Linked DNA regions of Homo sapiens: region 1 is linked to region 2. The links come from fine-mapping of genetic effects on gene expression. A gene starts in region 2. The other region holds a variant in brackets. All regions are shown on one strand. Distances are from middle to middle. Region 1 overlaps NFE2L2 (NFE2 like bZIP transcription factor 2). Region 2 holds the start of NFE2L2 (NFE2 like bZIP transcription factor 2).

Region 1 (10,968 bases), 34 kb after region 2:
CCTATCTCAAAATGAGTAAATAAATAATAAAATTTCAAAAGGAAAAAAGTGGAAAAAAAACCCGAAAAAATAACAATACACACATAAAATACAGTATAACAACTATTTACACAGCATTTACACTTTACTAGGTATTGTAAGTAATCCAGGGATGAGTTAAAGTATATAAAGGGATATGCATAGGTTATTTGCAGCAAATGCCATGCCATTTTATAATAGTGTAGGCTCATGGCTAATAAAGCATGAACCCGACTGAAGCTGCCTGGGTATGTGTCTTTGTTCAGCCACTTTCTGGTAGTATCTTTTTTCTTAACCTCAGTATTCTTATACTGTATAACAGGAATGTTTTCTCTGTATAAGGCTGTTTTGAGGAATAGTTTCTATATGTAAAGTACTTAGAACAGTGCATAGCATATAGGAAGCCCTTAATAGATACTGGCTTAAAGATAATTAGGTATGTCCTAGTGAGGTATACCTAACTACAAGTGCTACTTTAACTATGCCTACTTTGTGTGCTTTACAATATATATTGTTCAAGGCTAGAATAATGAGCCCCATGAGCAGGGTTTCATAGCATTTAAGATTCCAACGCCAACCTTCAATCATGGACACAGGTGGCCTGTGCCATCTAGCTAGCTGCGCTGCCTCCAGGCTGGGTGGCCTGCTCCTCTGTTGGATAAAAATAGCCTGACTCCTCACTGAAACAACCACCATGTTATTTGCGTCCTTGGGAAGCTGAAAGTAATAGAACTCTAAGTCTGGCGTTGCCAGCTGTCAGCAGAATGAAATGCAAAGTGTGACGTGTCTACACTGTACCCACTGGCCTTCAAGTCCCAACTCCCGTTCCCCCATCTTGATTTTTTTCCATTCTCAAATTAATTATTTCCCCTATAGGTGATTTGTGGAATGGAAACAGATTTAGATTTCCTACCTATTTAGATTTTTCCAAAGACTAAAATTACAAATCAGAAAAACTGCTATTGACACATTTTTGGTTAGGAAAATCTGGATGTGGTTCCTATGCCTAGCCTAGTCATATAAATTCTCTCCCCATGTATCTTTTTGTGTGTGTGAAACAGGGTCTTGTCACCCAAGCTGGAGTGCAGTGGTACAATCACAGCTCACCATGGCCTTGACTTCCTGGGCTCAAGCAATCCTCTCACTTCAGTCTCCCTAATAGTTGGGACTACAGGCTCGTATCACCACGTGCAACTAATTTGTTTTGATTTTGGGTAGAAACAGGTGTCACTATGGTGCCCAGGCTAGTAACTCCTGTGCTCCAGCAATCCTCCTGCCTTGGCCTCCCAAACTCCTGGGATTACAGGCCTGAGTCACCAAGCTCAGCCTCTCCTCATCAAAACCATTCCCTCTTTGTAAGATTCTTCCTATGTCTTAAAACTTAATACCTTTAATCCTTCCCTGGAGCCATAGTTTTATTTATTTATTTATTTATTTATGAGACAGGGTCTCACTTTGTTGCCCGGGCTGGAGTGCAGTGACACGATCATAGCTCACTGCTGCCATGACCTCCTGGACTGAAGTGATCCTCCTACCTCAGCCTCCTGAGTAGCTGGGACCACAGGTGTGCGCCACCACACCAGTTGTTGTTGTTGTTGTTTGTTTTTGTTTTGGTAGAAACAGGGTCTCTCCATGTTGCCCAGGCTGGTCGCGAACTCCTGGGCTCAAGCAATCCACCTGCCTCAGCCTCCCAAAGTGCTGGGCTTGTAGGCGTGAGCCACCGCACCTGTCCCTGTCTGCTTTTATTTTATTTTTTTTTGAGATGGAGTCTTGCTCTGTTGCCCAGGCTGGAGTGCAGTGGTGCGATCTCAGCTGACTGCAACCTCTGCCTCCCAGGTTCAAGCCGATTCTCCTGCCTCAGCCTCCTGAGTAGCTGGGATTACAGGCACGTACCACCACACCCGGCTGATTTTTGTATTTTTAGTAGAGACGTGGTTTCACCATGTTGGCCAGGCTGATCTCGAACTCCAGACCTCAGGTGATCCACCCACCTTGGCCTCCCAAAGTGCTGGGATTACAGGCATATAGGTAAGCCACAGAGATAAGAGTAGCAAGCAGTGATGGGGAGAAGATAATCTAGTGTAGGAAAGATGGAAAGAATGGTGATATTTCACAACTGCTAGATTGACACTTTAACTTGAGAGTTATCCCTCTATAAACTGGATATTTGCTGAGCAAAGTTTAAAGAAAACTCCATGTATTCAGTAATGTTTTCCAGACCCCACTTCTCTTATATAAGCCAGTGGCTTAGAGTGCTTGCTCTAATTTCTATATTCCATTAAACAAGGGTGGGATTTCTTCTCATTCAAACCATTTGTGACTTTGCCCTTTAGTGACCTCTACCATCACCCTATCATTAATGATCCAAGTGATTAGAATGGATGGCTATGTGTTTGTAGGTTGTTTGTTGTCTTTAATGAATAGATTCATTGAATGGAATTAACTGTGCTCTTCTAGAACATTGGATCTGTGTTCTCATTTAGATTGTATTTGTAATCTCCCCACTTCCCACCATCAACAGTGGCATAATGTGAATTAATTTATGTGGTATCTGTCATTTAAAAAACATGAGCTCTCTCCTTCCTTTTTTTGTCTTAAACATAGGACATGGATTTGATTGACATACTTTGGAGGCAAGATATAGATCTTGGAGTAAGTCGAGAAGTATTTGACTTCAGTCAGCGACGGAAAGAGTATGAGCTGGAAAAACAGAAAAAACTTGAAAAGGAAAGACAAGAACAACTCCAAAAGGAGCAAGAGAAAGCCTTTTTCGCTCAGTTACAACTAGATGAAGAGACAGGTGAATTTCTCCCAATTCAGCCAGCCCAGCACATCCAGTCAGAAACCAGTGGATCTGCCAACTACTCCCAGGTACAGAGTACTCAGTTCTTGGGAAAGTTATGGCAGGTTTAAGGAAACACTGAGCAAGGAATTAAAATATCTGGATTTGAGTTCCAGCTTTGCCTTTCTTTTACTTAACCTTGTCAAATCTACTTTCCAACCTCAGCCTCCTGATGAGTTCAGTACCTAACCTGAGTTCAGTACCCAACCTATTGATCTTAACAGTGTTATTGTGAGGATTGGGAAGACTTAAGTTACACCAAAGAGTTTTGTAAAGTATAGAAACATCCTGTAAGGATCAAGTAGCAGCAACAGAAGTAGTAGCAGGAGAACCAAGTAGCAGGGATTACTGGCGTTACTGTGTGTGGCAAGCACTGTTTTAAGAACATATACTGACTGATTTAATTAACACAACTATATTAATTAGTTACCATTATCCCTGTTTTATCTACGATGAGCAACTGAAGCTCACAAAGGTTAAATAATTTGCCCAGATCACTCAGAAAATTGGAGGAGCTAAGATCTGAACCCATGTGGTCTAGTTCAAATTGTGCATCAAAGTGATCTCTGAAATAAGATAAATATTTACTTAACTTGATTATAAATATTTTATGAACATCAATTATTGAATATTTAGCTTGGCAATGGAATATTTAACCATTTTTGTTTTCCTTTGTGTCATTCCCTTTTATCAGGTTGCCCACATTCCCAAATCAGATGCTTTGTACTTTGATGACTGCATGCAGCTTTTGGCGCAGACATTCCCGTTTGTAGATGACAATGAGGTGAGGTATAAAATAACCTGGTTAATAGAAAAACTCCATCATAACTATAAAATAACAATCTATTCTATGTAAGTCCCGTCAATGAATCTCCATTTAAAAGAATAAAAACATTTTTAGGAGGAAATTTTTTAACCAAGGAAATACTCTTGTCAAGGAAACCTTAGCCTATAAATAACTTTACAATTAAGAAAAAAAAAAACCCTTCACACAATACAAAACCAAAACCATTGACTATTGCATAGCCAGAAACATGGACAGCATAACCATGGAAACAAATAACCCATTTGCTGCAAGTATCTAAGAGGTTTGGTGAGTAAAGAGCCAGCTGGGCAATAAACGAAGACTTGTTCAGTTAACAATTTTAATAAATCTGTTTTATCTAGTACCACTGTGCTAGATATTATATAAACTAAATCCTAAAGATTGTACTTACGCATTTTAAAGTTTACTTTCAAATGCTTAAGCTGAAACAGACCAGCAAATTATAAATTTGAGTCAGTGGGGTAGGAAAAAAAGATTTGTTATTTACAAACGGGGTCATGACTGGTTAGTAAGTAGAGAGACACAGAACTGCAGCTGATTCCATTTTGTTTTGTAGTGGTGCCTTAGAGCTTACTCATCCCCTGTTGGTGGAAGACTCATAAATCAATGCCTTATCAATTTTAGGTTTCTTCGGCTACGTTTCAGTCACTTGTTCCTGATATTCCCGGTCACATCGAGAGCCCAGTCTTCATTGCTACTAATCAGGCTCAGTCACCTGAAACTTCTGTTGCTCAGGTAGCCCCTGTTGATTTAGACGGTATGCAACAGGACATTGAGCAAGTTTGGGAGGAGCTATTATCCATTCCTGAGTTACAGGTAACTAAAATAGAATGTAATACTGGAGATTTTTTTTATATTCAGTGCCTTTAGTCATTCTGATTATTTATATACCACCTATTTATAGGAAGGATTGGAGGGTGCTATTAACTTAGTCATGAGTACTGCCCATGCTAGTTAAATTGGTTGGACATCTTGAGGATAGAATGTTATAAACCTGACGTCTGATCTGGGAACTCTGAAAATAATACATAACGCTTAGGCGTAAATATGTATTGGAAATGAGAATTATCTCTGAATTATAGATAATAAATTATAGAGATAAGCCTGAAGATAATGTGGGTAGGGAGTTTATCTAAATTTATCACGTATTATCATGGATTAACTTTGATTTATATAGTATAAACTTCCTTCTCATGCAGTGTCTTAATATTGAAAATGACAAGCTGGTTGAGACTACCATGGTTCCAAGTCCAGAAGCCAAACTGACAGAAGTTGACAATTATCATTTTTACTCATCTATACCCTCAATGGAAAAAGAAGTAGGTAACTGTAGTCCACATTTTCTTAATGCTTTTGAGGATTCCTTCAGCAGCATCCTCTCCACAGAAGACCCCAACCAGTTGACAGTGAACTCATTAAATTCAGATGCCACAGTCAACACAGATTTTGGTGATGAATTTTATTCTGCTTTCATAGCTGAGCCCAGTATCAGCAACAGCATGCCCTCACCTGCTACTTTAAGCCATTCACTCTCTGAACTTCTAAATGGGCCCATTGATGTTTCTGATCTATCACTTTGCAAAGCTTTCAACCAAAACCACCCTGAAAGCACAGCAGAATTCAATGATTCTGACTCCGGCATTTCACTAAACACAAGTCCCAGTGTGGCATCACCAGAACACTCAGTGGAATCTTCCAGCTATGGAGACACACTACTTGGCCTCAGTGATTCTGAAGTGGAAGAGCTAGATAGTGCCCCTGGAAGTGTCAAACAGAATGGTCCTAAAACACCAGTACATTCTTCTGGGGATATGGTACAACCCTTGTCACCATCTCAGGGGCAGAGCACTCACGTGCATGATGCCCAATGTGAGAACACACCAGAGAAAGAATTGCCTGTAAGTCCTGGTCATCGGAAAACCCCATTCACAAAAGACAAACATTCAAGCCGCTTGGAGGCTCATCTCACAAGAGATGAACTTAGGGCAAAAGCTCTCCATATCCCATTCCCTGTAGAAAAAATCATTAACCTCCCTGTTGTTGACTTCAACGAAATGATGTCCAAAGAGCAGTTCAATGAAGCTCAACTTGCATTAATTCGGGATATACGTAGGAGGGGTAAGAATAAAGTGGCTGCTCAGAATTGCAGAAAAAGAAAACTGGAAAATATAGTAGAACTAGAGCAAGATTTAGATCATTTGAAAGATGAAAAAGAAAAATTGCTCAAAGAAAAAGGAGAAAATGACAAAAGCCTTCACCTACTGAAAAAACAACTCAGCACCTTATATCTCGAAGTTTTCAGCATGCTACGTGATGAAGATGGAAAACCTTATTCTCCTAGTGAATACTCCCTGCAGCAAACAAGAGATGGCAATGTTTTCCTTGTTCCCAAAAGTAAGAAGCCAGATGTTAAGAAAAACTAGATTTAGGAGGATTTGACCTTTTCTGAGCTAGTTTTTTTGTACTATTATACTAAAAGCTCCTACTGTGATGTGAAATGCTCATACTTT[A/G]TAAGTAATTCTATGCAAAATCATAGCCAAAACTAGTATAGAAAATAATACGAAACTTTAAAAAGCATTGGAGTGTCAGTATGTTGAATCAGTAGTTTCACTTTAACTGTAAACAATTTCTTAGGACACCATTTGGGCTAGTTTCTGTGTAAGTGTAAATACTACAAAAACTTATTTATACTGTTCTTATGTCATTTGTTATATTCATAGATTTATATGATGATATGACATCTGGCTAAAAAGAAATTATTGCAAAACTAACCACTATGTACTTTTTTATAAATACTGTATGGACAAAAAATGGCATTTTTTATATTAAATTGTTTAGCTCTGGCAAAAAAAAAAAATTTTAAGAGCTGGTACTAATAAAGGATTATTATGACTGTTAAATTATTTGTTTGGGATTCCTTTGAGTTTATTCACACAGTATTTTCCATAAGATAATCATCCATTTAATTTAGATGTTTTGCATTTTCAGAATGTTTTATTTGAAAATATAAAAATAATTTTATACTACATTTCTAGTACCAGGGTTACAGAGAAATAAAGTATATCAAGAGGATACTTTGCCTCTTCAATAGCAGGTACATCTAAACCCAAGAAAATGTTACACACTGACATGAAAGCACTGATTCATTTATTTCCATCAGTAGACATACGCCCACTATACCCTAGGCAGAGTTTGAAGTAGAAAGGACAAAACCAATATCCCTGCCTGGCCTGGAACTTGCATTCTAGCGAAGGGGAGGTAACAAGCATACTCCACTATGTTAGAAGGAACTGGACGGGGAAAACCAGTAAAAAGCGTCACAACTTAAGGCTGTAAATGGGAAGAGCCTTACTGAAGTGGCAACATTTGAAGGTGTGGGAGAAGCTGTTCTCATAGCCAAGAACACTGCAGACAAGACACAGCAGGTCCAAAGGCTGAACCACATTTGAGAAAAAACAAGGACAATGTGGCTGAAGAAAGGGATGGGGGTGGAATATGACAGAGCCTCGTAAGTCTACGTAAGTGAGGTGGGGCGCTAATGGTGCTGTTCAGGAGTAACACTCAACTGTTTTTTTAAAGTTCCCTCTGGGGTTTGTGACTGCTGGCAGTGGCTGCCTAGCTTTCTGGTAAAGGAGTGTAGTTAGTGGCAGGTGGCTGTACCAATCCAGATGGAGGTGAAAGAAGCTGAGCTGCAGCCACGGTCAGTACAGTGGTGGCAGCTGGACTGGCCATTTCTGCTGCAGGTTTTGCAAGTCAGGAAGCACATATAGCCTGAAGTAAAACAGGATTTTCAAAGTCTACCAAAATCTGCCTTCAGCGGTGGCTATTAGAGAGGTGGGCTTGAACTAAAAAGGACAAAATGGGAAGCAGCAATACTACCTCTAAGCCTTACTGCCATTAAAGGAAAAATAAGAGATGCTCAGTAACAAATATGATCTTAAATCGCCCAAAGAAGGATCTCCTTATATAGCAACCCAAATCAATGAAGCTAAGGATTTACTACGTCAAGCTCAAAAATGAAATCAATGTATGATGAATTTTAGGTTCCTACTACTTTTTATGTGTATGAGTATCAACTTTCTATAAAATGCCTCAGAGCTACAACTTTTAACATTTCCTCTGGCTTGTGTGTTGAGAACAGTATAGAGGGTAAGGATGGGAGTAGAAAACCAATTGAGAGGTTCATGCATTATGATGGCAGCTTGGTCTAGAGTGATAGAAGAGGGGTAGTCAGGGACATTGGATTCTGCCATGTCTCAGAGAACTAAAAGGATTTTCTGGTAGAATGGATGTGAGTCAAGAAGTTTAACATCTTTAAGAATTGAGTTGTCTGAGGATGGAGAAGACTGGATAGAGGGAGACCCACGTGGGAAAATCAGTTCCTTTTTGGACATACCGAGAGATCTATTAGACGTTAACTAGAGTGTACAAAAACAAGTCCCCTCAAAACCCTTTGAAAATCTGCATGCTTTCCAACGAGCCATTCAGTTATCGATTATTTCTTCACCTAAGCAGGTTTCACTTGTTCATATTGTTTTGCCTTTTTAAAGTGAGGAAATGGAGATTCATTAAGTATGTTTAAAATAAGCACTGCATGTGTAACTATTCAGTGAAGACTCCTAGCAACACTGCATGGGCTTGCTGCTAATTCCTAGAATGGCGTTTAGCAACTCACTTTAGCACTTTTTTTTTTTTTTTTTTTTGAGACAGAGTCTCGCTCTGTCACCCAGGCTGGAGTGCATTGGCGCTGTCTCGGCTCACTGCAAGCTCCACCTCCCGGGTTCACGCCATTCTCCTGCCTCCTCTTAAGCATATTTTCTCATCTATAAAGCAGAGTGGTACTCAGTGGGTCACCCCACAAAAAGCACTGCGCCTAGCTCATAGTAAACATTGCATAAATGATGGGTGTTTTGTCAATTTCCTTTGGTCTTGTATTATGCTTTTTGGCTACAAGTGAATCCAGTCAAATTAGCTTACTAGAGAATTTCACTGTTAAAGTTCAGGATTGAAAATGACTTCAAGGACTAATGAATCTAAGGGTTCAAATGTGAAGATTTTTTTTTTTTCTTGAGATGGAGTCCCACTCTGTCACCCACGATGGAGTGCAGTGGCACAATCTTGGCTCACTGCAACCCGCACTTCCCAGGTTCAAGTGATTCTCCTGCCTCAGCCTCCCAAGTAGCTGGGATTACAAGTACCTGCCACCCACCTGGTTAAATTTTTTTTTTTTTTTTTTTTTTTTTTGCATTTTTAGTGGAGACAGGGTTTCACCATGTTGACCAGGGTGGTATGGAACTCCTGACCTCAAGTGATCTGCCTGCCTTGGCCTCCCAAAGTGCTAGGATTACACGGGAGCCACCACACCAAGCCAAGTGTGAAGATTTGGGGTCCTGAATATTTTTCACGTGCTATCAAGGAACTTCCTTCCTCTGATGGTGTGGTGATGGGGAATCTCGGGAGAAGACATCACTTTTCCAAACTCAGAACATAATCCCAGGTCTTGAACAAACTGTCTATTCTTAGACCAAATTGTGAGTGCAGAGATGGTGGCAAGAATCTCAGCAGCAGCTATCTGGAGCACCTAACATTGACTGATATTTGAAGGGGGAAGAGCATTGCTGGGCAGACAAAAACAGACATTCTTTGGTAGTAAACTTCAACGTATTCTGACCAATTCATACGAGGGAACTGGCCATAGAAACTTATGGTACCTAAAAATATTACAGTGAAGAATAAAAAATTATTGTGAGAAATTACAAATTTCAAATAACAAATCTCAACTATGCCATGACTAATAAAACCAAGTGTTCATTTCTCTTGATCTGCATTTGAATTGAGAGCTTTATACCTGACTGTCCTCAAATTTGACTATCAAACTGTAATTGCACAACTTTGTATAAAAACCTTTCTTCTTGCCAAGATTTCCCAAGTTCCTGTTTTTGAGGGGAGCGCTGCTCAAATATGTTTGCCATATCTATATTTGTGACTAAGCCTCAGAATATATACAAGATAATTCTCATTCCAATTTAAAGATGATAGCTACCAGGGCACTTTGTTTTCAGTTGATGCTGTTTTGACACTTGAGAACTTGAAAAAAATTAAAGACTAGAAAACTTCAGGGCCGGGTGTGGTGGCTCACGCCTGTAATCCCAGGTGGGAGGCTGAGGCGGGTGGATCACGAGGTCAGGAGATCGAGACCCTGTTCAACACGGTGAAACCCTGTCTCTACTAAAAATACAAAAAATTAGCCGGGCGTGGTGGCGGGCGCCTGTAGTCCCAACTACTCGGAAAGCTGAGGCAGGAGAATGGCGTGGACCCGGGAGGTGGAGCTTGCAGTAAGCAGAGATCGCGCCACTGCATTCCAGCCTGGGAGACAGAGCGAGACTCCGTCTCAAAAAAACAAAAAACAAAAGAAAACTTCAATCCTATGTTGGGGGGTGGGGGAGAAACGCTTAAGACATTGACATAACTTTTATCACCCATTAAAATTTTAGGTATGCTTCAGGATATCCTTGTAAGACAGTATCCAGCATTACCAAGACACTATCTTTAGGGTCCATAAGACAGGTACTAAGTTCTTTAAGCTATTGAATTTAACCTTCTGATTTACTGAAGGGAGGGAATTATAAATCCATTTTACCAAAAAAAAAGTGTGTGTGTGCATGTGTGGAGGTGGGGGGGAGGAAATCAGGTTAAAAACAGGAGTTCTTAACCTGTATAGATTTTAGGTCTGACAATTTTGATGGGAAGAAAGTTTCTTCATTTTTACTAACACATAACATTTCCTTCAATATTCCAGGCAATGAACCACTGGCATTTCACTGTACTTGTCTTAAAGTACAATTTAAACCACATTATCACTTATACATCACAACTTCAATGTTAGAAATCAGACCCACCATCAGACCTAATTTAGTGTTTCAAGTACATTAAGTCATAAACTTATTATTCTGGTAATTATTTTCATGAAACATTTGAGTAATCTCACTTGTATCTCACACCATGTAAAAAATCAACATTCAAGGGGCCTGCTGGCACACCAATCTGCCAGAGCGCACGGGATTAAAAAGGAACCAAGTAACCTGCCCAAGCTCACAAAACTGCTTTTACATTCTGTATTTACATTTCTTACTGATAAACAAAATCTGACACAAGAATCAGAGTAACAAAAACCTACAAATTAAGTTTTCTTTCAGTACCTATTGAGAGAAATAAGACCACTGACTTCAAATAGACAAACCATCAGAATTCTTTTGATACATATATATGTTTTTTTTTTTTT
Region 2 (10,968 bases):
AATACAAAAATTAACTGGCATGGTGGTTCATGCCTGTAATCCCAGCTACTGGGGGGCTGAGGCACGAGTGTCGCTTGAACCTGGGAGGTGGAGGTTGCAGTGAACCGAGATCATGCCACTGCACTCCAGCCTGGGCAACAGAGTGAGACTCTGTATCAAAAAAAAAAATTCCAAATCAATTTGTTGTATGCGAAGAACATAATACCATGAGTCAGGAAATGTTATTCTATTTCTGGTTCTGCCAGTAGTTACCTCTGTGGTCATTAGTAACCACTTCACTCTTCAGTTTCCTCAAATGTAAAAGTAGGAATTTGGACTATATCAAGGAAGAAACATACCTGATATGTGCCACCACTCATAATTCTGTGCCCATGGCAGACATTGTTAATCAATCATTGAACTTTTTCTACCAAATTGGGAAGCTGTTTTTGAATACTTTTCAGCAAAGCACTGTAGGCAGCCACTACCAATGTATCAGAATTGGCAATCAAAGTGAAATTTGCTTCCCATCTCCGGGCCAGAAGACGTCTAAGGTTTTTTTTTAATTCTAATATTACTCAAAGGGCAAAATGAGAGTCCATGGAATAGAAAGTGTCAGGAGACAATTATGTTGGCAAATCTCATTTCCCTTTTTTATTTTCCAGCCTCCAAGAATGTTATAGATTATCTGTAAGGTCTGTTTATGAGGATGCTCTGCTCTTCCATTCGTTGTAGTCTGCTTTTTGTTTGTTCAAAGTGGAAATAGTTTAATTGTTTTTATCCCTTAATTCTAAAAATGCTTTCTGTAAGGATTTGAATAATACAGAAAAATACAAAGATGGAAATGAAAATTATCTGATATTCTACTCCCATTATTAATATTTGAGAACTGTCCTTGAAGACATAGCTCTAGGCATAATGTTTTTCTGTATTTTATTTTCCCCACAAAGCGATGTTACGTTTGGGCTACTTTGCCTGTTACTGAGAGGCTGCAGTTCTTAATCTCTATTCATAAAATTTTGTCTTTGGTAATTCCTGTTCTGCTGAGTTAAACGTTGCAAATATAGCAGTAAATTGGAAGAGAAAGGATCTTTAGAACCTTACAACAACTACACTTAAAGATGTGGTAAAATTCTCCAGGCTCCACTCAAATAAATACAAAATGGAAAGATTTACAAAGCTTGTGGTTATAATTCAATTTGAAAATAAAACAGATCCAGTGGCATGGGAGAAAAGCAACGTTCTTTCCTTACTCCCACACCCTACTCCCACCTTTTTTCTTCTTCTTATAAAAGTAATGTATGCTGGCCAGTCACAATGGCTCATGCCTGTAATCCCAGCACTTGGGGAGGCTGAGGCAGGAGGACTGCTTGAGGCCAGGAGTTTGAGACCAGCCTGGGCAACATAGTGAGACTACCCCCTCTACAAAAAATTTTAAAATTAGCAGGGCATGGTGGTGCATGCTTGTCATCCCAGCTACTCAGGAGGCTGAAGTGGGAAGATTACTTGATCCCAGGAGGTCTAGGCTGCAATAAGCCATGATAGCACCACTGCATTCCAGCCTGGGTAACAGAGCGAGACCCTGTCTCAAAAAAAAAAAAGTATGTTTATTTATTTAGAACAATGTAAACATGGAAAAATGAGAAAAAAAAGTCATCAGTCTCCATCTAGTCAAAATAATTACGGTTAACATTTTGGAGTATATGCATTCTGTCTTTTTTTTCTGTGCATATATATTTATATAGGTATCAACACATAAAATTCAAAGGACTCTTTTAAACATTTTTCTCTTTACTCACTGCATTGCTGTTGCTGCAGGATACTTTTTCTTTATGAGCAGGAAACTACACAAGTTAAAACTGGCTTTGGAGATGTACAGCTCATTGTACCAGTAGTTTGCACAGTGAGGTGTACACCCCAGGGAACCAAGGATGCGGGTGTGTTTTGAAATTAATACACCAAATATTTTGAACACTGCTTTACTGGAGTTTGTTATTTTATTTACTTATTTATTTTTCGAGATGGAGTTTCGCTCTTGTTGCCCAGGCTGGAGTACAATGGCGCGATCTCGGCTCACTGCAACCTCCGCCTCCCGGATTCAAGCAATTCTCCTGCCTCAGCCTCCTGAGTAGCTAGCATTACAGGCATGCACCACCATGCCAAGCTAATTTTGTATTTTTAGTAGAGACAGGGTTTCTCCATGTTGGTCAGGCTGATCTCAAACTCCCGACCTCAGGTGATCCGCCCACCTTGGCCTCCCTGGGATTATAGGTGTGAGCCACCGCGCCTGGCCTATACTGGAGTTTAGTTTATCCACTGGGCAGGTTGCTCAAGTTCAAACTCCCTAAGCAGATATTCAGCGAGTATCTTACATAACTGGCACAAATGAGGTCATATCACGGTCAGAACCTCTGTATGCATTTATCCCTCCATCTACTTCATTGATAAAATGTCTGTGTTCGTGAAGTGTATTTTGATAAGGAGACTATCTCTCCATCGTCTAATAAAATGAAACTTATGCATGGTGTGATGAGGTTTTTTACTTTGTATGTAGCAACAAAGATATGTTATGGGAAAGACAGCTTCCTCATTCCCAGGGAAGTCATTTTCTTCTGAGAGTCTGAGTTTTATTAAATCACCAAGTATCATCTCCCTGTTTGTGCTCCCAATGTTGGTTAACAAACAAAGAGCAGCCAGGGGAAACCCTGCCTTTGATAGTCACCATACATACAGTATGCTGTTTTGGTTATCAATTGCTATGAAACAAACCACCCCCAAATTTAATAGCTGAAAGTGATTTATTATAATTTCTCACAGTTCTTGGTGTTGACTTAGCTTAGCCAGGGAGTCTTCTGCCGGTCTTGCTTACAGTCTCTTGTATGTGACTGCAGTCATATAGCAGCTGGAGCTGGAGTTCTTTGGGGGCTTGAATAGGTGGGCTCGAAGGTCCAAGATGGTTTCTTCATTCACATGTCTGGTGTGTTGGTTCACATAGTCTCTCTCTCTCCATTTAGAGTTTCATCTTCCATGACTTTTCCCATGGCCTCTCTTTCCATCAAGGTAGTCAGACCTCTTAGGATGATGGCTGACTTCCAAGAGTATAAAATTAAAAGCTGTCAGGGCTTTTTCAAGCTTAGGTTAAAACCTGGCATAATGTCACTTCTGGCCTCTTTCCATACCTTAAAGCAAGTTGCAGGGCCAGCCATGCTTGTTTCAATATGAGGGGACTAGACAAATGCCTCAATATCAGGAGAGGTGGTTTACTGGGTGCCATCTTTGGAAGCTTTCTATACTTTACACTGGACAAAGTAGAATTTCAACTACAATTCTAAAAGATTATGAATATTTTCTGGCTCAAACATGGAGAACAATTGAGAGGAAGTGACAGAGAGAGGAAGAAGCCTCAAAGTGATGGAGGATTTTGAAACAATCGGTACTTTCTTGCACCTTGCAACTTGGCAGATTGGAGCACAAAGGAGGTGGAACTAAGGGGTCAATGCATCACCATTATCCAGACTTCTTATACCCAGAAGACTTACTTGATGATACTTTTTTTTTAGACAGAGTCTCACTCTGTCGCCAGGCTGGAGTGCAGTGGCGTGATCTCGGCTCACTGCAACCTCCGCCTCCTGGGTTCAAGCAATTCTCCTGCCTCAGCCTCCCTGAGTAGCTGGGACTACAGGCGCATGCCACCACAACCAGCTAATTTTTGTATTTTTTAGTAGAGACAGGGTTTCACCACGTTGGCCAGGATGGTTTTGATCTCTTGACCTCGTGATCCGCCAGCCTCGGCCTCCCAAAGTGCTGGGATTATAGGCGTTAGCCAGAGCACCTGGCCAATGATGCTTATTTTTTATGAGCAATCTGGAGCAAGGTATCACAATTGACACATCTCAAGCATGTAGGGAAGGCCGTCTTCCCAAAGACAGCAAATGATTCAGGAATCAATGAAAAGGTACAAGAGTCAATAGAACATAAAACCAATTGGAGGGTATTTTTCCCAAATAGTAGCGAGGAGAGCCTGGCAGCAAAAAAGGATCCCATGGCAGCAAGACAGGAGAGAAAAACCAGCACCTCCTCTTTCTTGTTCTTTCTTGCTCCTCCAGAGCTTCTCAACATGCATTATCTGTGCCCTCCTAACACAATAGGCAGGTTTGGAGGGCAAAGCAAGGGCTCAGGCTCTCATATGAAGACAATCACATTCCAGAGTCTGCCAAGATTGGGCACCTCCTTGACGTGGGTGGTCTTGAGAATGGGGTTCCCTTTATTTGGCTAAACCAAATGCCAAACAGCTTTTCCTTAGTGTTTGTTTTTCTTAAACAAGTTCAAACTCTTATCATATTGCTCCCCTCCCTTTGAAAATATGTACTCTGCAGATGCCTGAAATAACACACTCTCAGCAAATTGCAGCATTGGAAAAGTGAAGGTTATTTCATTCAGTCTAAACTCAATGGAAATTTTGTGGCTTAACAAGGAAATACCAAATACTTTATAAACTCCTTTAGAGCAGTAACCATGTCATATGACTCTGGTATCTCCTACCTACTAGGCTCATTGTCTACCTTCTCTGATGTCGTAATTTTAATAAGTAACTTGAATTGTTAACAATTTACTCTTGTCTTTTTCTTGGACTCAGAAATGTTATTTTATTATTATGTCTCTGCATCTTTCATGTGAGGTCCTTTGCAAACAGTTTTCTCCTAACTTGTTTTCATTGTGCAGATCATGTTGCAGGGTTTTCACATAACAGCTGAAAGGAATTAATAGGAGTTAAAGAAGCTTGCTTCAATTACAAGTAATTAATTTAGGCTTCACTTATCTCAAGGAATATCTGAATATACAAATTTACACATAAATCCTGGGAGTGTCAAATTATGCAACCTAGAGAAAGTAAGCTCTGCAGCTTTTTGGGCGTTGATTGCTATAGTCAGGGGTGTGTGTGTGGTTTTTGAATGAAATAGCAAAACCACTGCCAGTATTATCTACTTCACCTGGTTTTGAATAATTCCAGGAAGCTAGAAACTGAAAACCAGTCTTGTATAGAGTTAGAAAGATTGTAAATGCAGAAGAGGAAGAAAAAAACAAAACTAAACCATTTATCTATCCTCTTTGAACCCTTATAAGAGTTCACAATATTCCTCGTTTCAAATACTTGAAGTCTTCTCTGGGCAATGATTAATTTTTAAATAATTGTTTTTAATGTAAGACATAAAACATACGCACTGCAGATTTAAAGCATACTTGGAAGTAACAAGGAGAAACATAAAAATCGTTGATTCCACAGCATTTAATATATTGGTAACCTTCAATTTTTTTCTAGGCACGTTTTTATAAAATGAGCCAATACTATACAAACGTTTTTGTAACTTTTTTTAATTTGTACTATTTTGTGAGTACGTGAAAAAGAAATTTGTAAAGAGTAAACGATTACAGCATGTTGTGGTATTACACACTGTTGAAGGGCGCCATCTGTGGCGTGGTGGCTGCGCTTTGGTGGGAAGAGGTTCTCTTGGGGTTCCCGTTTTTCTCCCAGCTCTGGGTGGGCAATACTGACCACTCTCCGACCTAAAGGGGCTTCTCCGTTTGCCTTTGACGACCTGAGCTTAGGAGAATGGAGACACGTGGGAGTTCAGAGGAGGGCGTTCAGGGTGACTGCGAACACGAGCTGCCGGAGCTGTCCACATCTCCCCTAGGCAGGGCCCACTGGCCCCAGCCCGGGAAGGGAGCAAGGGCGGGAGGGCAGTTGGCAGTGGCACGGTCTGGGTCCAAATCTTTAGCCCCCCCCACCCCGGCTGGCGCCATTCTCGGGCGGTAAAGTGAGATAAAAGCAGGGCAAGGTTCTGCAACTCCAAATCAGGGAGGCGCAGCTCCTACACCAACGCCTTTCCGGGGCTCCGGGTGTGTTTGTTCCAACTGTTTAAACTGTTTCAAAGCGTCCGAACTCCAGCGACCTTCGCAAACAACTCTTTATCTCGCGGGCGAGAGCGCTGCCCTTATTTGCGGGGGAGGGCAAACTGAACGCCGGCACCGGGGAGCTAACGGAGACCTCCTCTAGGTCCCCCGCCTGCTGGGACCCCAGCTGGCAGTCCCTTCCCGCCCCCGGACCGCGAGCTTCTTGCGTCAGCCCCGGCGCGGGTGGGGGATTTTCGGAAGCTCAGCCCGCGCGGCCGGCGGGGGAAGGAAGGGCCCGGACTCTTGCCCCGCCCTTGTGGGGCGGGAGGCGGAGCGGGGCAGGGGCCCGCCGGCGTGTAGCCGATTACCGAGTGCCGGGGAGCCCGGAGGAGCCGCCGACGCAGCCGCCACCGCCGCCGCCGCCGCCACCAGAGCCGCCCTGTCCGCGCCGCGCCTCGGCAGCCGGAACAGGGCCGCCGTCGGGGAGCCCCAACACACGGTCCACAGCTCATCATGATGGACTTGGAGCTGCCGCCGCCGGGACTCCCGTCCCAGCAGGTGCTGCCTCGGCCCTCTGGGCCCTGCGGTGGTGCCGGGACGGGGGCGGGGGAGCTAGGGAACCGCGGCCCGGGAGGGACAGCCGCAACCGGCTTCCCCCACGTCTGGCCAGAGCCAGGACCGCGGCGCTGGGTAGAGCCGCCGCGCTTGCGCCGGGGCAGGGCGGGGAGGGGCAGCGGGGACGCGGCCGGGTGATCCGACCGACCACGAGCCCGAGGGCGAACGGGTGGGAAGTTGCGGGAAGGTCTGGGGACTGAGCCCGCTCGCGTGGGCCTTGGGGGAGAATCCAGCCGCGTCCCCGGGCCCGAGAGCTGGGACTCCGGAGCCCCTAAGTTTGAGCGGCCCGGTGGGCGGCGGGGCAAGAGGGGGCGGACGCTGGCCGTCTGAGCCGGCGCGGCCCGGCCCTTCCGGGGCTGCGCGGCTCCCCCGCCTCGGTGCCGGCAAAAATGTGCCTAGTCACGGGGCCGCTCTCGGGGGAACTGAGGTCGCCTTCGGGCTGGGACCCGGAGCCCCTTCGCCGCGCCCCAAGACCTCCTTGAGTGCGGGCTGCGACGCGCTCACCCCGCTGGGCCGTCTGTGGGCGCGGCTTTGCGAAGTCATCCATCTCTCGGATCACTCTCTGGCAGCCTTGAGCTCTCTTGAAAGCCCAGCCCCGGGACGAGGGAGGAGCGCCTTAAGTGCCCAGCGGGCTCAGAAGCCCCGACGTGTGGCGGCTGAGCCGGGCCCCGCGCACTTTCTCGGCCGGGGAGGGGTTCGGGCTCGGGCACCCGGAGTTGGCCCCTCGTAACGCCGCGGGAAAGTGCGGGCGAGGGCAGTGGACTCTGAGGCCGGAGTCGGCGGCACCCGGGGCTTCTAGTTCGGACGCGGTGCCCCCTGGTGGCGCTCACCGCGCGCGTGGCCTTGGCTTCCGTGACAGCGCTCGGTTGGCCGTCACAGCAGCCCTCGGTTGGCCCTTTCCTGCTTTATAGCGTGCAAACCTCGCCGCGCCAGGGCCAAGGGACAGGTTGGAGCTGTTGATCTGTTGCGCAATTGCTATTTTCCCCAGAGCGGCTTTGTCTTTGGATTTAGCGTTTCAGAATTGCAATTCCAAAATGTGTAAGACGGGATATTCTCTTCTGTGCTGTCAAGGGTAAGAGTTGCGAGTGTAGATTAGAATTTCTGTTGCTTTTAGTCTGTTAGTAATTTTTTGCTTTCAGCTATTATTTCTCCCCTGAGTACTTTATATATGTTTCCTTTTCAGTTGAGAATTTGCCTCAATTTCTTAACATGTTCCCCCTCTTCTGCAGGGGCAGAGAGTGGAACGCTTGCGTTTCAAAACACTTGCTAATTTCTGTGAATTGTTATAAAAGTGAAAAGAAGTTTCTGCTCATCCTTTGTAGAAACTTTAAAAGTAGATATTTATATTTCTAACTTCTTTTGTAAATGAATTTTAGGAAAAAAATTGGAATTCAAGGAAATGTGTACTTGATGTACAGTAAATACGTTTATGCTGTTAAATGTAAAGTTTTCGGTTAATTCCAAAGATCTATTGTAAAGTTTTAAGTTATGGACAATGTATTAATTGTGCTTTTTTCCCCCTTTAAAGTTGTTTGTCTTGAACTTTTCCCCAGTCTTCATTGGGATTGTATTCTTCTGGTTCCAACTAGTGAAGAATTAAATTGTACCTTCCGATTTATTTAATAGCTGCTGTTCAAGAGTTATCTATAGGAATGCTTGTTTGACTGAAGGATATATGATAAAAATGAACTTTAGTTTTTCTGATTTCCGGAATTGTCTACAGCCCTCTATTATTTTTGAATTTTTCTTTCTTTGCTGTGTAATATAACATTCCTTATACAAAAATGCGTGAAACATATGTACCGCATTAAGTGTGTATTTTCCAATTACGTTTGATAAAAATAACTGCTTTTCTACCTTTGTAATCAGACATCGATTTGCATATTTGAAAACAGAAAAAGAACAAGAAAATTTAGAATTGATTTTGTTTATGATTCATATTAGATTGTTGTCATCCATAAAGATTTGAACAGAGTCAAACATTTTCTTGACCTTTTGTCAAAAAAAACTCTCCAGGTGTGAAGTGGTAGTAGGATATAGTTTTTCACCTTCTGTGCAGAGGATGTGTTGATAAACAGGGCAGTAAGGAGAGCCTTAGATTCAGTATCTCCATTAGGTGGAAGGAACCATCCATTACTCTTTTCAAGGGTGTCTTGGAGAGATAAAGCACTTTCCTAGATGAGGGATGAAGTTGATATTGAAATAGACCGATGAGATTATTTTTAAGTCAAACAAAAGAAAAATAGGACAGGCCTCTCATCTCCTGAATGAATGTTAAGCAAAGAACAACTTGACTTTTTAGATATGTGAAAAATCTCTTGAGAGGTTGTGGAAGCAGCATGTAGGAGGATAAATGCATAACTCACATCAGTCTTTTACGCATTAAAAATAACTTGGGCCATTTTGAAATCTTTCTTTCTTGCCCTGGGTTCTTATAAGCAATGTTGGGGGGAAAACTGACTCTGTCTTTAGGATTACCAGGAAAAGTTGAAAGCCAAATGCATCATTTTTCTTAATATTTGTTTTTATTGAGGATAAATCATGTTTAACAAAGCTGCATGAAAAAAAGGAACCCAACAAGTACATTTTTTTTTCTGGGAATTTCCTCTGTCCTGACTGAAGACATTTAAAGGGGGTTTTGTGTCAATATTTCCTCCTTAACTGTTCCTCAAGCCTGGGTTAACTTTTCAGTATGCAGGAAGAATTTGGCACTAAGATAATAATAGATAAGTTACTGGGCACGTCCCTGGGTGCCAGACATAATTGCTTCACATGCATAATTTTACAGTAACCTCACGGGAAATATTATTATCCCTGGTTTCCAGGTTGGGAAAACCAGGCATAATAGTTAGATCAGGCATTAGGTTAGGAAAGGTTAGGAGAGAGGCATAGAGAAAGGCCAGGACCTGCTAAGGTGACCATACTATTGAGTGGCCAAGGTAGCATTCAAACAGGTTTGACTCCTGGGGGCTTCTAATCACCACTTCCAGACTGTACCAAAACTCCTTAAACTCTAAATAGGAAGAAAAGCTCACACTTTAAAAAGTGGGTAAGTTGAGATTTGCCTATTCTGGGGGAAGGAGAGGCCGGAATATAAAAGATTAATGTCTGCAGCTTTTCCATTTAGCAAGACATTTAATCACTGTATGTGACGTGGGGAGGTGGACCTTGTTAAATACAGGGAGAGTGAATACAATCCATCAATGGTACCCACTGTGGTCCTTTTAAGGAAGACACAGAGGCCTCGGTGGATTCAATTTAGAAAGGCAGGACTGTTTTTTGTTTTTTGTTTTTTTTTTTTTTTGAGATGAAGTCTTGTTCTGTTGCCCAGGCTGGAATGCAGTGGCCTGATCTTGGCTCACTGCAGCCTCTACTTCCCGGGTTCAAGTGATTCTCCTGCTTCAGCCTCCCGAGTAGCTGGGATTATAGGCACCCACTGCCCGGCTAATTTTTGTATTTTTAGTAGAGATGGGGTTTTACCATGTTGGCCAGGCTGGGCTGGTCTCGAACTCCTGACCTCAGGTGATCCACCCGCCTCGGCCTCCCAAAGTGTTGGGATTACAGGTGTGAGCCACTGCGCCAGTCTGTTTCTTAATATAATAATAGTTTTAAAAATTTCTGATGTTTGGCAATGTCCAAGATTCTGCCTCACATTTTTCAGAAACTGCCTTTTTTCTTAATTAAATCTCTTAGCTACTGGAGTCTTTGCCTTTGTTTGCCTTGCTACTTGGTACATTTCTTCTGTTCCATTGGCTCTTTTTGTTTTGAAGTAGTGCTCAAAAATAAGTTTGGTAGTAAGAATATGGTGAAGAGTGTGACAGACAGGGTTAAACCAGGCTGAAGGAAAGAGAGCAGAATGGGGAAAATTTGAGTTGAAAACAGCTAGCAGAAAGCTGATGGCGCAAATTCAACCCTAATCTCATGTTTTGGCACTTCTGAACTATAGCAAGCATAAGGGCTCAACTCTTATCTAGTTGAAGCTTACTTGGGTCTTTGAGAATAGTACATCTCAAAATTAAACACTTTCTTAGTCCTTATTGTTAAGTTGTTTTTGGAATTATTGTCTTATTTGTCTGAATTAAGTGTGCTGCAGGACTTATAGGATCTGATGGATGATTTGCCTAAAAGTTGGTCCAGGTCAACCTCAGGGCATTTAAATGCTTGGTCCAGCCACTTTCTGAAAGTTGACTGAAATATGTTGCACAGCAGGGTAGAGGAGGACAAGTTTACTAGATGTCATTTTTAACCTGCTTGTCTTCATCTCTGACTGTAGAAATGTATATTCATTATAAGTTTGCCACAAATAGAGAATAGAGTTTATTCTTTGATCATCTAATTTCTAGGAGCTATTGAAATTTCACTGCTACCTGCTTTTAAATAAGCGCCAACAAACATTTATTAAAAGGGCTTTAAGGTATAGGCCAAGATTTATTCAATTGCTAATGGTATGTTTTCTGTAAATGAAAGCAAAAATATGTTCAA

The links. PIP is the estimated chance that this variant, and not a neighbour inherited with it, causes the effect.
Region 1: its variant is fine-mapped to the expression of NFE2L2 in whole blood (TOPMed, PIP 0.98).

What each region holds. Positions count from the first base shown.
Region 1 is chr2:177,225,926-177,236,893 of GRCh38, reverse strand. It overlaps NFE2L2 (NFE2 like bZIP transcription factor 2), which reads left to right. Exons shown (of 5, transcript NM_006164.5): 2 at 2,623-2,889; 3 at 3,555-3,644; 4 at 4,311-4,502; 5 at 4,886-6,586. The coding sequence ends at 6,109. It also overlaps the pseudogene DNAJC19P5. Among named protein-coding and RNA genes, the nearest start is that of HNRNPA3, 19 kb to the right of the region's middle. The variant A/G (reference allele first, on the strand shown) is at 6,197.
Region 2 is chr2:177,259,993-177,270,960 of GRCh38, reverse strand. It overlaps NFE2L2 (NFE2 like bZIP transcription factor 2), which reads left to right and starts at 6,234. Exons shown (of 5, transcript NM_006164.5): 1 at 6,234-6,429. The coding sequence starts at 6,385. RefSeq lists silencers at 6,091-6,960, 7,221-7,380 and an enhancer at 7,061-8,260.